2 linked regions of the Homo sapiens genome follow. The protein of the gene in region 2 interacts with the protein of the main gene of each other region in a biochemical or structural test. Each region holds a gene or a part of one and is shown on either strand. Other genes may lie near its edges.

Region 1 (7,031 bases), on a different chromosome or scaffold from region 2:
TGGTGGCTCACACCTGTAATGTCAGCATTTTGGGAGGCCGAGGCGGGCGGATCACCTGAGGTCAGGAGTTTGAGACCAGGCTGGCCAACGTGGTAAAACCCCATCTCTATTAAAAAGTGCAAAAATTAGCCAGGTGTGGTAGAGGGCTGGTAATCCCAGCTAACTCAGCAGGCTGAGGCAGGAGAATCGCTTGAACCCAGGAGGTGGAGGTTGCAGTGAACTGAGATTGTGCCATTGCACTCCAGCCTGGGTGACAAGGGCGAAACTCTGTCTCAAAAAAAAAAAGCTGCGTGCAGTGGCTCATGCTTGTAATCCCAGCATGCCAAGACTGCGCCACTGCACTCTAGCCTGGTGACAGAGCAAGACTCTGTCTAAAAACAAAAACAAAAACAAAAAAAGGCTGGGTGCAGTGGCTCACGCCTGTAATCCCAGCACTTTAGGAGGCCAAGGTGGGTGGATTACCTGAGGTCAGGAGGTCAAAACCAGCCTGACCAACATAGTGAAACTCCATCTGTACTAAAAACACAAAAAATTAGCCAGGTGTGGTGGCGCATACCTATAATCCCAGTTACTCGGGAGGCTGAGGCAGGAGAATTGCTTGGATCTGGAGGCAGAGGTTGCAGTGAGCTGAGATTGTGCCATTGCACTCCTGGGCAACAAGAGTGAAAATCCATCTCAAAAAAAAAAAAAAAAAAAAAAAAAAGAAAAAAGAAAAGGCATGAAGAAAGCAAATGTAAGGGTACTGATGATCTGCTACTAATAAAACAAACAAATGGAAATTCTGGAGTTGAAATTATAATACAATAAATTTGCTGGAGGAGCTCAACAGCAAGTTCAAAATGGCAGAAGAATCAGTGAACTTGAAGATACAGCAATAGAAATAGCTGATCTGAAGAACAAAGAGAAATAACATTGAAGAATAATGAACAAAGCTTCAGAGATTATGGAAAAACTTCAAGCATACTAACATATGTGTAAGGAGAGCCTCAGAAGAAGAGAGAAGAGAGAGAGAGTAGAAAAAAATATTTGAAGAAAATGTCCAAAAACCTCCCATATTTGATGAAAAACATTAATCTACACATTCCAAAATCTCAAGGAACCCAAACTAGGAAAAATGTGAAGAGAGCTACACCTAGACACATCACAAACTGTTGAAAGGCAAAGACAGAAAATCCTGAAAGCGGTGAGAGAGAGAGAAAAATGACTCATCATGTACAGTGAAATAATTCAATTAATGACAACTTCTTATTTGAAAACAATTAAGGCCAGAAGGCACTGGAATGACATATTCAAAGTGGTGAAAAAGAATAAAAATGTCAACTAAGAATTCTATATCCAGCCAAATGATCCTGCAAACATTACACTAAGTGTCCAGGCGCAGTGGCTCATGCCTGTAATCCCAGCACTTTGGGAGGCCAAGGCGGCAGATCACCTGAGGTTGAGAGTTTGAGACTAGCCTTGCCAACATGGAGAAACCCTGTCTCTACTAAAAATACAAAATTAGCTGGCTGTGGGGCGCATGCCTGTAATCCCAGCTACTCGGGAGGCTGAGGCAGGAGAATGGCGTGAACCCAGGAGGCGGAGCATGCAGTGAGCCGAGATCGCGCCACTGCACTCCAGCCTGGGCGACAGAGCGAGACTCTGTCTCAAAACAAAATAAAACAGAAAAAAGAGAATCGCTTGAACTCTACAGGCAGAGGGTGCAGTGAGCCTAGATCATGCCATTGCACTCCAGCCTGGGCAACAAGAGCAAAATGTCGTCTCAAAAAAAAACCAAAAAAAAAAAAAAAAAAAATTACACTAAGCGAAAGAAGCCAGTCACAAAAATGCCACATATTTATACAATTCTATTTACATGAAATGTCCAGAATAGGCATCAATCCATAAAGAGAGGAGATAAGTCGTTGCCAGGGATGATTGCTCCTAGGTATAGGGTTTCTTTATTGGGGTGATGAAAATGTTCTAAAATTAGACAGTGGTGATGGTTGCAGAACTCTGTGAATATACTAAAAACCACAGAATTGTACATTTTAAACAGGTGAATTTTATGGAATGTGAGATTTACGTCAATAAAGCTGTTATTTAAAAATGAAATAGCCAGGCATGGTGGCTCACGCCTATAATCCCAGCACTTTGGGAGGCTGAGGCGGGCGGATCACGAGGTCAGGAAATCGAGACCATCCTGGCTAACACGGTGAAACCCCATGGCACGGCACCACCATGCCCGGCTAATTTTTGTATTTTAGTAGAGATGGGGGTTTCACCATATTGGCCATGCTGGTCTTGAACTCCTGCCCTCAAATGATCCACCCGCCTCGGCCTCCCAGTGCTGGGATTACAGGCGTGAGCCACCGCCCCCAGCCCAGTTGCACTACATTTAAAAGGACTGAACTCATCTCAAGTATATTCTTTGAACGCAATGGAATTTAATCAGAAATCAACAATAGGAAGAAATCTGGGAAATCCTCAAATATTTAGAAATTGAATAACATGTATCAAAGAAGAAATTTTACAAGGGAAATTAGAAATTATTTTGAACTGATTTAAGTGAAAATAAAACATTCAAAAATTTATGAGTTGCAACTAAAGCAGTGCTCTGGAGAAAAAAAACTCAGTTTATCCTACTTTACTTTTACAATACAGAACGCTTCTGTGACCATATGTGTGGGTTTTCTCCTCCCAGAAACCAAGCACTCAATTCTGCAGTGGACACCAGTTGGTGTCCCCTAATTCAAATCAATTCTGACACTATCTACCTGGAGACAGCTTCAGATCCTACAGGTTGAGGGCTTATTCCTACAAGACTGAGCCCTACTTCTGATGCCAATTGCAGGTTCCACATTCTTTCACCTGTTTTTCTGACCAACCGGCTATAAATCGAGGTTTCCATGACACCCCTGGATTCAATTAATTTGCTAGAGCAGCTCACAGAACTCAGGGAAAAACCAGGGGAGAAGTAACACGCAAGACCCAGCAAGCGTGTGAATGTGTAAGATCCCAAGTCAAAGGTCAAACCGCCTACTTGTCTCTCTCAAGTCGCCATCTTGGTCCTCTTCCAAGTATACTTTACTTCTTTTCATTCCTGCCCTAAAACTTTTTAATAAACTTTCACTCTTGCTCTAAGAGTTGCCTTGGTCTCTCACTTTGCCTTATGCCCCTTTGGTTGAATTCTTTCTTCTGAGGAGGCAGAAATTGAGATTCATGGCCACTAACATTCTTGCCTTGGCCTCTCAAAGTTTTGGAATTACAGGCAGGAGCCACTGGGTCAGGCCAACCTAAAAGATATGTTAAAGGATACAAATAGATAAAGAGATACATACGGCCAGGTCTGGAAGGGTCTAATGTGTAGGAGCGTCTATCCCCATGGAATTGGGGTGTGCCACACTTCCAGCACATGAATGTGTTCTTGTTCACCTTCCTGGAAGCCCCTAAACTGAGGTCTTTGGGTTGTTATGAAGGCTTCATTACATAGGCATGGTTGATTAAATCACTGGCTATCGGTGATCAATTCAACCTTCAGCTCCTTTCTACCCTCTCAAGATGGGGGGCTGTAACTTCCAAGCCTCTGAGCACATGGTTGGTTCCTATGGCAACCAGCCAACCAGAATGTGGTAATCTAGGGACTTCTCAAAAATCACCCTATTAACATGTACCAAGGTGTGGCTGAAAGGGGCTTGTTATATGGCCGGGTGCGGTGGCTCACGCCTGTAATCCCAGCACTTTGGGAGGCCGAGGAGGGCAGATTACGAGGTCAGGAAATCGAGATCAGCCTGGCTAACATGGTGAAACCCCGTCTCTACTAAAAATACAAAAAATTAGCCAGGTGTGGTGGTGGGCGCCTATAGTCCCAGCTACTTGGGAGGCTGGGGCAGGAGAATGGCATGAACCTGGGAGGCGGAGCTTGCAGTGAGCCGAGATCGCACCACTGCACTCCAGCCTGGGCAACAGAGCGAGACTCCATCTCATAAAAAAAAAAAAAAAAAAAAAAAAAAAAGAAAGGGGCTTGTTATAAATAACAAAAGTCTGTTTTTCACCTTTCTTGCTCTGGAGCAGTTCCAGAGGTGTTTCAGGAAGCAAGGACAAAAGGCCAAATATTTTAACAGAAGATACTCTTACTGCTTTAGTCACTGAGGAAAGTACAAGGGTTATAGAAGCTGTGAGCCAGGAACTATGGAGGGAAATATATATATATATATATATATATAAAACGTCACAAGTGCTTAAGAGAGAAATTTATAATTTTAAACATCTACATCAGAAAAGAAGGATCTCAAATCACTCAAATCAGCAACATAAGATCTTACCTTAGAAACTAGAAAAGATCAAGAAAATGACAAATTCTTAGCTAGACTAACCAAGAAAATAATCAGGGACCTCACATCTGTAATCCCAGTGCTTTGGGAAAGCAGAGGCGGACAGATCACTTTAGAGTTCGAGGAGTTCAAGACCAGCCTGGCCAACACAGTGAAACCCCGTCTCTACTAAAAATACAAAAAAGTTAGCCGGGCATGGTGACACATGCCTGTAATCCCAGCTACTCGGGAGGCTGGGGCAGGAGAATTGCTTGAACCTGGGAGGCGAAGGCTGCAGTGATCATTACTGCACTCCAGCCTGGCAAGACCCCGTCTCAAAAAAAAAAAAAAAAAAAAAAAAAAAAAAAAGTGACACAAGGAGAAACAAAATATTCTGTGTACACTTAAAACAAGTAAAGAAAATGAATAATCAAATACCTTTCCACAAAGAAAAGCCGAAGCCAGCTGGGTGCCATGGCGCATGCTTGCCTATAATCCTAACCCTTTGGGAGGCTGAGGCAGGAGGATCACTAGAGGCCAGGAGTTTCAGACCAGCCTGGGCAACAGAGCAAGACCCTCTATTTAAAAAAACACAAAAATTAGCTGGGCATGGTGGTATGCCCTTGCAGTCCTAGCTTTGAGTTTGAAGGAGTCTGAGGCTGCAGTGAGCTATGATTGTGCCACTGCACTCTAGCCTGGGCAACAGAGACCCTGTCTCTAAATAAATAAATAGAGAATTTAAAAAAAAAAAAAGGAAAGGAAGAAAGAAAAGCTTAGGCCCAGGTAGCTTCACTGGTGATAACTTTTTTTTTTTTTTTTTTTTGAGACAAAGTCTCAACTGTGTTGCCTAGACTGGAGTGCAGTGGCACAATCTCGGCTCACTGCAACCTTAGCCTCCTGGGTTCAAGCGATTCTCGTGCCTCAGCCACCTGAGTAGCTGGGATTACAGATGTGAGCCACCACACCTGGCTAATGTTTGTATTTTTACAAAAACACAAATTTTACAAAAATTTACAGGGTTTCTCCACGTTGCCCAGGCAGGTCAGAAAATAACTTTTATCGGCTGGGCGTGATGGCTCACCCCTGTAATCCCAGCACTTTGGGAGGCTGAGGCGGATCACCTGAGGTCAGGAGTTTGAGACCAGCCTGACCAACATGGTGAAACTCCGTCTCTACGAAAAATACAAAAATTAGCTGGGTGTGCTGGCAGGCGCCTGTAATCCCAGCTACCTGAGAGGCTGAGGCACGAGAATCGCTTGAACCCGGGAGGCAAAGGTTGCAGTGAGCCGAGATCACACCACTGCACTCCAGTCTGGGCGGAAGAGTGAGTCTCTGTCTGAAAAAAAAGAAGATAACTTTTATCTAAAGAATCCAAGTTTTTTTAAATGATCAGGGCCCAGAGAGATATTAAAATGAGATAGCAATCACTTCCTATTCTCCCTTTTTGAGCTAAGATTCATCTATCAAAACTGCTTGCTATTGCCACAAGTGGGTAAGGATTAACCTAATAATGCCCTACCTGACGCTATATCCTACATCCTACAGCTTAATGTACAGCCAATCACTAACCAATGTTATTTCTGTAAATCAATGAGAATTCTTGATAAACAACTTTGTATGAGTCCCACTCCCTGTCCACATTTTTTTGCCTTTAAAAATCAAGTAAACTCTTCAAATCATATTTTGTGTGTTAGCCTCTTCCTTGCAGGTCAACACTTCTATAAAATACTGTAAAAAGAAATATTACCAACTGAGTGTGGTGGCTCACACCTGTAATCCCAACACTTCGGGAGGCCAAGGCTGGTGGATCACCTGAGGTCAGGAGTTCAAGACCAGTCTGGCCAACATGGTGAAACTCTGTCTCTACTAAAAATACAAAAAAATTAGCTGGGTGTGGTAGCACCCTCCTGTAATCCCAGCTACTCAGGAGGCTGAGGCGGGAGAATCACTTAAATCTGGGACAGGGAGGCTGCAGTGAGCTGAGATCGTGCCACCACACTCTAGCCTGGGCGATAGAGTGGGATTCTGTCTCAAAAAAAAAAAAAAAAAAAAAAAAATTACCAATCCATCCTTCACAAACTCCTTCAGAAACAAGATGAGGAAGGGGCTGGGCATGGTAGCTCACGCGTGTAATGCCAGCACTTTGGGAGGCTGAAGGGGGCAGATCACTTGAGGTCAGGAGTTTGAGACCAGCCTGGCCAACGTGGTGAAACCCCATCTCTACTAAAAATACAAAAATTAGCCAGATGTGGTGGTGAACACCTGTAATCCCAGCTACTCGGGACGCTGAGGCAGGAGAATCGCTTGACCTCCTCCAGGAGAACCAGGGAGACGAAGGTTGCAGTGAGCTGAGATCATGCCACTGCACTCCAGCCTGGGTGACAGGGTGAGACTGCATCTCAAAAAAAAAAATAATAATAATAATAAGGAAGATCTACAAGAGAAAATTTCTCAAATCTTGGGTTAAGATAAAGAGTTCTTAGATATGACACTAAAGCACAATACATAGGATAAAAAATGATAAATTTAATCTCATCAAAACTTAAAACTTTTGTGCTTCAAAAGGCACTGTTTAGAAAATGAAAAAACAAGTCACAGTCAGGGGGAAATACCTGGAAATCATATCTATAATAAAAGACTTGTACCCAGAATACACAGATAACTCTTACAACTCAGTAGAAGACAAACAGCCCAATTACAAAATAGGCAAATGATGTGAATAGATATTTCACCAAAGAT
Region 2 (7,031 bases):
CTGTAATCCCAGCACTTTGGGAGGCCGAGGCGGGTGGATTGCCTGAGCTCAGGAGTTTGAGACCAGCCTGGGAAAAACAGTAAAACCCTGTCTCTACTAAAATACAAAAAATTAGCCAAGTGTGGTGGTGGGCACCTGTAGTCCCAGCTACTTGGGAGGCTGAGGCAGGAGAATTGCTTGAACCCAGGAGGCAGAGGTTGCAGTGAGCCAAGATCGTGCCACTGCACTCCAGCCTCGGTGACAGGGTGAGACTCCGTCTCAAAAAAAAACACAGAACACCAGTGTGTGCTATGTGCTAGGCAAATTCCTTAAGAAAATAAGGGGACCCTTGAATGTGCACCATTCTCTGATGTTACAAATTGAGATTAACAATCTGTCAACTGCAAGAGCTCTTAGCAGGGAATTCATGAGCAACTCTCTACTGAGGTAGTGAGCAATCTTTGCTTCCACTCTCACTCCCCTCATTTCCCTTTGTAACTCTCACTTGGCCTCCAGAAGCAATGCTTAGATATTGCCTCCTCTTGGAATCTTCCTGACTCAACCCTCCTATGTACTTCCAAAGCATTCTGCTTTTAACCCCTGAATAGCAATTATTACATTGTATGGTCACTGCTCTTGCCCTAGCACCTAGCCCAATACTTATGATATATTAAGTACTCTCATATGGAAGAGCAGTTATAATAACCAGTAAGGACTGATTTCTTCCTAAGGAATAAGAAAATATGTCCAGTAAAGGAATCTTAGTGATGAAGAAGGGCTGTTAATAATGCCAATCAGTCTTTTTTATGTTTCCCCCGAGACAGGGTCTCACTCTCATTGCCTAGGCTGGAGTGCAGTGCTGCGATCTCAGCTCAATGCAGCTTCAACTTCCCAAGCTCAGGTGATCCTCCCACCTTAAGCCTCCCCAGTAGCTGGGTCTACAGGTGCATACCAACATGCCCTGCTAATTTTTTTGTATTTTTAGTAGAGACGAGGTTTTGCCATGTCGCACAGGCTGGTCTCCAACTCCTGGGCTCAAGCGATCCTCCCGCCTCAGCCTTCCATAGAGCTGGGATTATAGGCGTGAGCCACCGCACCCAGCCTCAAAGTCTTATTATGTGTATTCACCTACATTCCACATGTTTAGATTCCCATTATATACCTTGACCAAGTTAGTCATGGAAGCACGAAGATATTTTGGTATTATTGCTAATAGCAAAGGATCACGGGACAGGATTTCATGCCTGAAGAGGGCTCCCCAAGTCATCTGAGTTGAAGAGCGTAGAAACTAAAGAGAAAAAAAAAAGAAAACGTCAAAGGATTTGGATTCTATATAACCCAGATTATTACTTAGCAGTTATCAACTACATTTTTTCATAGAAATAAATCTGTACAATACTTTGAAGCTGTCTCTACTGCAATTTATCAGTAATGACCACCCACTATGGACCACATGTTAGTAAGACAGGCTGTGGATCAAGGAAATTACCTGGAATGTGAGCTGAATTTTACTACTTTCTCTTCTTTGCAAAAAAGGATACTGGAATCTCAGAGTGATATTAGAAGGACAATTTTGAACAGAGTGAAATTAATTTTATAATACAATTAATCAGACTTTTGTTTCAAAAATCTTTATAACTTTAGTACTAAACCACCTGGGACACACCTCACATGTGACTGAGTACAATCAGAATATTACCTAAAGGGAAAAGCTGCTGACCTAGACAAGTGCACTGTTTGGCTCAGGAAGAAGAGCCAATAATTCTCTTAATGAAATGACACTACGGTCATTCCCCAAGGCCTGAAGAGTCACATTTTATACATGATCTACAATAATATTTCAGGACACAGTGCTTGACATTGGTTCACCTAACTAAACTTTTGAGAAGTTACCTGTATAAAGTTTACCTGACTTGGATGGGTTGTGAAAGCAAGAAAAGATTCCAGGTATTTTCCAAAGTTTGATGGTGTTTCTACATCAGAATCTGCACCCTGTAGGAGAAGACCACTATATTAACGGTGTTGATCGAGAAAAGCAGGAGAGGAAAAAGCAGGGAAGTAATAAAAACAGATAAATTAAACCCTCAAAAAATGTTGTTTCAAAAGGACTTTGTATTTCCTTTTGGCTAAAGAAAGGCATCACTTCAAGGGCTAAAATATAGGTTACTTTGCCTACTCAATCATCATCATTACTTTGCCTACTCAATCATCATCATTAAAACCCATTCTGTGGTCAAACAGTAAAATAAAAAACACTCATTTCAGAAATTACAGAAAGAAAAAAAATCTGTATTACTTCCTCAGACCTTACCTATTCACATCTCTGTGTCCCAACCTATTACCTAATCCCTTCAATAGTTTCTTTTCTTTTTTTTTTCTTTTAGATGGAGTCTCACTCTGTTGCTCAGGCTGGAGAGCAGTGGCACGATCTCGGCTCACTGCAACCTCTACCTCCAGGGTTCAAGCAATTCTCCTGCCTCAGCCTCTCGAGTAGCTGGGATAACAGGCATGCACCACCACGCCTGGCTAATTTTTGTATTTTTAGTAGAGACAGGGTTTCACCATGTTGGCCAGGCTAGTCTCAAACTCTTGACCTCAGGTGATCTGCCCACCTCACCCTCCCAAAATGCTGGGATTACAGGCATGAGCCATTGCACCTGGCCCCCTCAATGGTTGCTTATCTCTGAAACTATCCTCTCTAACCATTTAAACCACCACAAAAAGATATAACATCAATTGCAAATGTCTGTTCCAATGTCCTATCTTCCAACTTATAAGACTGAGTATTAAATATTTCTCTAATGGCAGGTTTTCCAGGTCAATCAGACTCAAGTTTTCTTTTGTGCTCCAATAATACATCCCTTAGATTGGGAAAAGAGTTCTTTATTCAAGTCCATGTTTCGTGGGCTAACAGAATGTAAAAGCATAAAGCACTCAGCAGATTGAGGTTCTGTAAGTACCAAAATTCACAAGAAACCAACGTTGACTTTATGGAATAATAGACGTGGATATCTGACGTTGGTATAACTATTTTATTGTTAAAAGAAATTTAGATCACTCAAACACTATTCTATTAAGATAATTTAATCTATAGAATCATGCAATAACTTGTATGGCACTGCCCCATCAGGCTAAAATCAATGACATTTGCAACCCCTCATTGAAACATAAGTTTCTAAATGCTCTTCCCAAATGGGCTTGAAGCTCTCCAGAAAGCAAACACTAGCTCACCAGCAATGCACACAGCTGATTGCCCAGCGCACACAACACCTGACAGAGCCTCTTCAGAAAGACGTAGTGTTTTTCTACCAAACCTCCTCCATCAGCAGTCCTGTAAGATGAGAATTCCTTATATCACCAACAAAATTAAAAAGGCTGTAATAAAAACATCACTTTGTGTCTCATTTCTCCAAGTCATTTAGTTAGGTCTGTAATTCAGCAGAATTCCAATAGCTTTGCTAAATTAAAAATTTTTTAAAATCTTTTTAACTTATTTGGTGGCAAAACCTGACCTAAAATGATATAGGACTATTCACACAAACAGCAATTAATAACTATGAGTGTGAAAAGCAACTATATTAGCTGTCTTCTGGAGGAGGACAGTATCACATAAAAGGCAAGGACCTTGGGGTAAACGAGGCCTAGGCTTTAGGAACATTGAAGGACAGGATGGTATTATGGTGTCCAATGCAATCTCTGGAGTTTGACTACCTGGGTTGGAATCACCGCTTTATGAACCATGGTTGTGGTATGGCACCCACAGCACAAACAGAAACGGGACACCACTTAGTATGAGTGTCATGATGTCTATGGAACTAAGAATTGGACCTAAAAATAGTAACTACCCAAAAAACGTTATTCATTTAATTAACAGGATCCCTTAAAACAGTGCTGCAGTCTCTACAGGGAAGGAAGCCATGAAAAATGTGTATTAGAATGGGTAGTAAGAGATTTTAAGTAAAACACATGTGCCTCATACCTTTTCATTTCTCCTTGGGACCAAAAGTAAAGAGTATCAAAAAGATGGTGTTGCAACAGATTCAACTACTTATAATATATAGTTCTGCCTGACTTCCTGGTAAGAAACATGTTATCAAGAAATGCTTTAATATTTTTTCTTTTTTTTTGAGACACGATCTCGCTGTCACACCTAGGCTGGAGTACAGTGGCTCAAATATGGCTCACTGAAGCCTCAAACTAATGGGCTTCAAGGGATCCTCTCACTGCAGCCTCCCAAGTAGCTGGGACTATAAAGCGCATGCCACCATACGCAGCTAATTTATTTTCATTTTGATTTTTTGTAGGGATGAGGTCTTGCCATGTTGCCCAGACTGGTCTTGAACTTCTGGGTCCAAGCAATCTTCACGGCTTGGCCTCCCAAAATATGGGGATTACAGGCATGAGCCATTGGGCCCGGCCTTGCTTTAGTATTTTCTAGAGCAACTGGAAGAAAGTACATGGAAGCCCTTACAGTCATGCATCACTTAACGACTGGGGATGTGTACTGAGAAATGCATCGTTAAGTGATTTTATCACCATTTGAACATGATAGAGTGTACTTACACAAACTTACACAACAGGAATAGCCTATTACACATCTAGGCTATATAGCATAGCCTATTGCTCCTAGGCTACAAACCTCTATAGCATGTTACCGTAGCCAATACTGCAGGCAACTGTAACACAATGGTAAGTATTTGTGTATCTAAATACAGAAAAGGTACAGTAAAAATATGGTATAAATGATAAAAGATGGTATACCTGTAGAAGGCACTTACCATGAATGACTGCAGGACAGAAAACTGTACTGGGTGGGTCCAGAGTGAGTGGTGAGTGAATGTGGAAGCCTAGGACATTACTGGACCCTACTGTAGACTTTATAAATTCTGTACCCTTAGGCTAAACTAAACTTATTTATTTATTTAGAGATGGAGTCTCACTCTGTTGCCTAAGCTGGAGTGCAGGGGCACAATCCTGGCTCACTGCAACTTTCGCCTCCCAGGTTCAAGCGATCTCCTGCCTCAGCCTCCCAAGTAGCTAAGAATACACACATGCACCACCACGCCCGGCTAATTTTTGTACTTTTAGTAGAGATGGGGTTTCACCATGTTGGCCAGGCTGGTCTTGAACTCCTGACCTCAGGTGGTCCATCTGCCTTGGCCTCCTAAAGTGCTGTGATCACAAGCATGACCCAGCGTACCTGGCCCGCTAAATTTATTTAAAAAATTTTCCAGCCGGGCACGGTGGCTCATGCCTATAATCCCAGTACTTTGGGAGGCTGAGGTGGGTGGATCACCTGAGATCAGGAATTCAAGACCAGCCTGACCAACAGGGAGAAACCCTGTTTCTACTAAAAATACAAAATTAGCTGGCCATGGTGGTGCATGCCTGTAATCCCAGCTTCCTGGGAGGGTGAGGCAGGAGAATCGCTTGAACCCGGGAGGCAGAGGTTGCAGTGAGCTGAGATCGCATCATTGCACCCCAGCCTGGGCAATAAGAGCGAAACTCCATCTCAAAAAAAAAAAAACTTCCTTTCTTCAATAATGAATTAACTTTAGCTTACTGTAACTTTTTAACTTTATAAACTTTTAAAAACTATTTTTTTGAGACAAGGTCTCAGTCTGTTGCCCAGGCTGGAGTGTAGTGGCATGATCATGGTTCACGATTGCCTGGACTTCCCAGCTCTAGTGACCCTCCCACCTCAGCCTTCTGAGTAGCTGGGACTACAAGTACACATACCACCACACCCGACTAATTTCTGTATTTTTTTGTAGAGATGGACTCTTGCCATGTTGCTCAGGTTGGTCTCAAACTCCTGACTCAATCAATCCTCCCGCCTTGGCCTCCCCAGGTGCTGAGGTTACAAATGTTAGCTAGCACATTCAGCCATGACTGCCTCATTTTCTCTCTTTTTTTTTTTTTTTTGAGACAGAGTCTCACTTTGTTGCCCAGTCTGGAGTAGAGTGGTGTGATCTCAGCTCACAGCAACCTCTGCCTCCCAGGTTCAAGATACTCTCCTGCCTCAGCCTCCTGAGTAGCTGGGATTACAGGCGTGCGCCACCAGGTCTGGCTAATTTTTGTATTTTAGTAGAGATGGGGTTTCACCGTGTTGGCCAGGCTGGTCTCAAACTCCTGGCCTCAAGTGATCCACTTGCCTTGGACTCCCAAAGTGCTGGAATTACAGGTGTGAGCCACCACATCTGGCCAATGCCTCATTTTCTTATCCAAAAACACTGTCGATTGACAGCTAGCATTTAAGTAAGAACTTCAGGTGGGCACAGGGGCTCACTCCTGTAATCCCAGCACTTTGGGAGGCTGAGGCAGGTAGACCACCTGAGGTCAAGAGTTTGAGACCAGAGCGGTCAGCACGGCAAAACCCTGTCTCTACTAAAAATAGAAAAATTAGCCAGGCATGGTGGTGCGCCTGTAATCCCAGCTACTCGGGAGGCTGAGGCAGGAGAATCGCTTGATCCCAGGAGACGGAGGTTGTGGTGAGCCAAGATCGCGCCACTGCACTCCAGCCTGGGTGACAGAGCGAGATCCATCTCAAAATAAAAAAAAAAAAAAGAACTTCAGATAAATCCAAATAAGATAGAAAAATGACAAAGAAATTAGAAAACACACTGAAAAGTAAAGATACTCACTGTGCGGCGGAGAGTATATAATGCATGGCAACATCTCCAAATAAGACCATCAAGGGCTTCCGGTCTTCCAACTTGCCCTAGACCCAATTTTAGGGAAACATAGTCATATAAACTATACTTCAAAGTACCGACATCTTCTGTAAGTATATAATCAAATATATTGACTTCATAATTTCTTATATACCCCAGGGTTTAGTGAAACACTAGAAAGAAGCCCAACTCTTTAAAACCAAATCTGGATAAACTACATATTTTTTCTCAAAACTATCAGTTTAGTGAAAAAGCATAAACTTACATTTTTAAATGTGTTCGGCAGGCCGAGTGCGGTGGCTCATGCCTGTAATCCCAGCACTTTGGGAGGACGAGGCAGGCGGAACAACTGAGATCAGGAGTTCGAGACCAGCCTGG

What was found.
Region 1: the proteins of XPO5 (region 2) and ZNF346 form a complex in vitro, tested with the Homo sapiens proteins (one study listed by BioGRID).

Annotation. Positions count from the first base shown.
Region 1 is NC_000005.10:177,025,671-177,032,701, reverse strand, and holds part of ZNF346 (zinc finger protein 346), read right to left. Parts: intron 1-7,031.
Region 2 is NC_000006.12:43,559,037-43,566,067, forward strand, and holds part of XPO5 (exportin-5), read right to left. Parts: intron 6,701-7,031; coding exon 6,624-6,700; intron 3,372-6,623; exon of another isoform or gene 3,311-3,371; coding exon 3,211-3,310; exon of another isoform or gene 2,364-3,210; intron 1,972-2,363; coding exon 1,888-1,971; intron 1,268-1,887; coding exon 1,142-1,267; intron 1-1,141. UniProt on the Homo sapiens protein: Mediates the nuclear export of proteins bearing a double-stranded RNA binding domain (dsRBD) and double-stranded RNAs (cargos). XPO5 in the nucleus binds cooperatively to the RNA and to the GTPase Ran in its active GTP-bound form.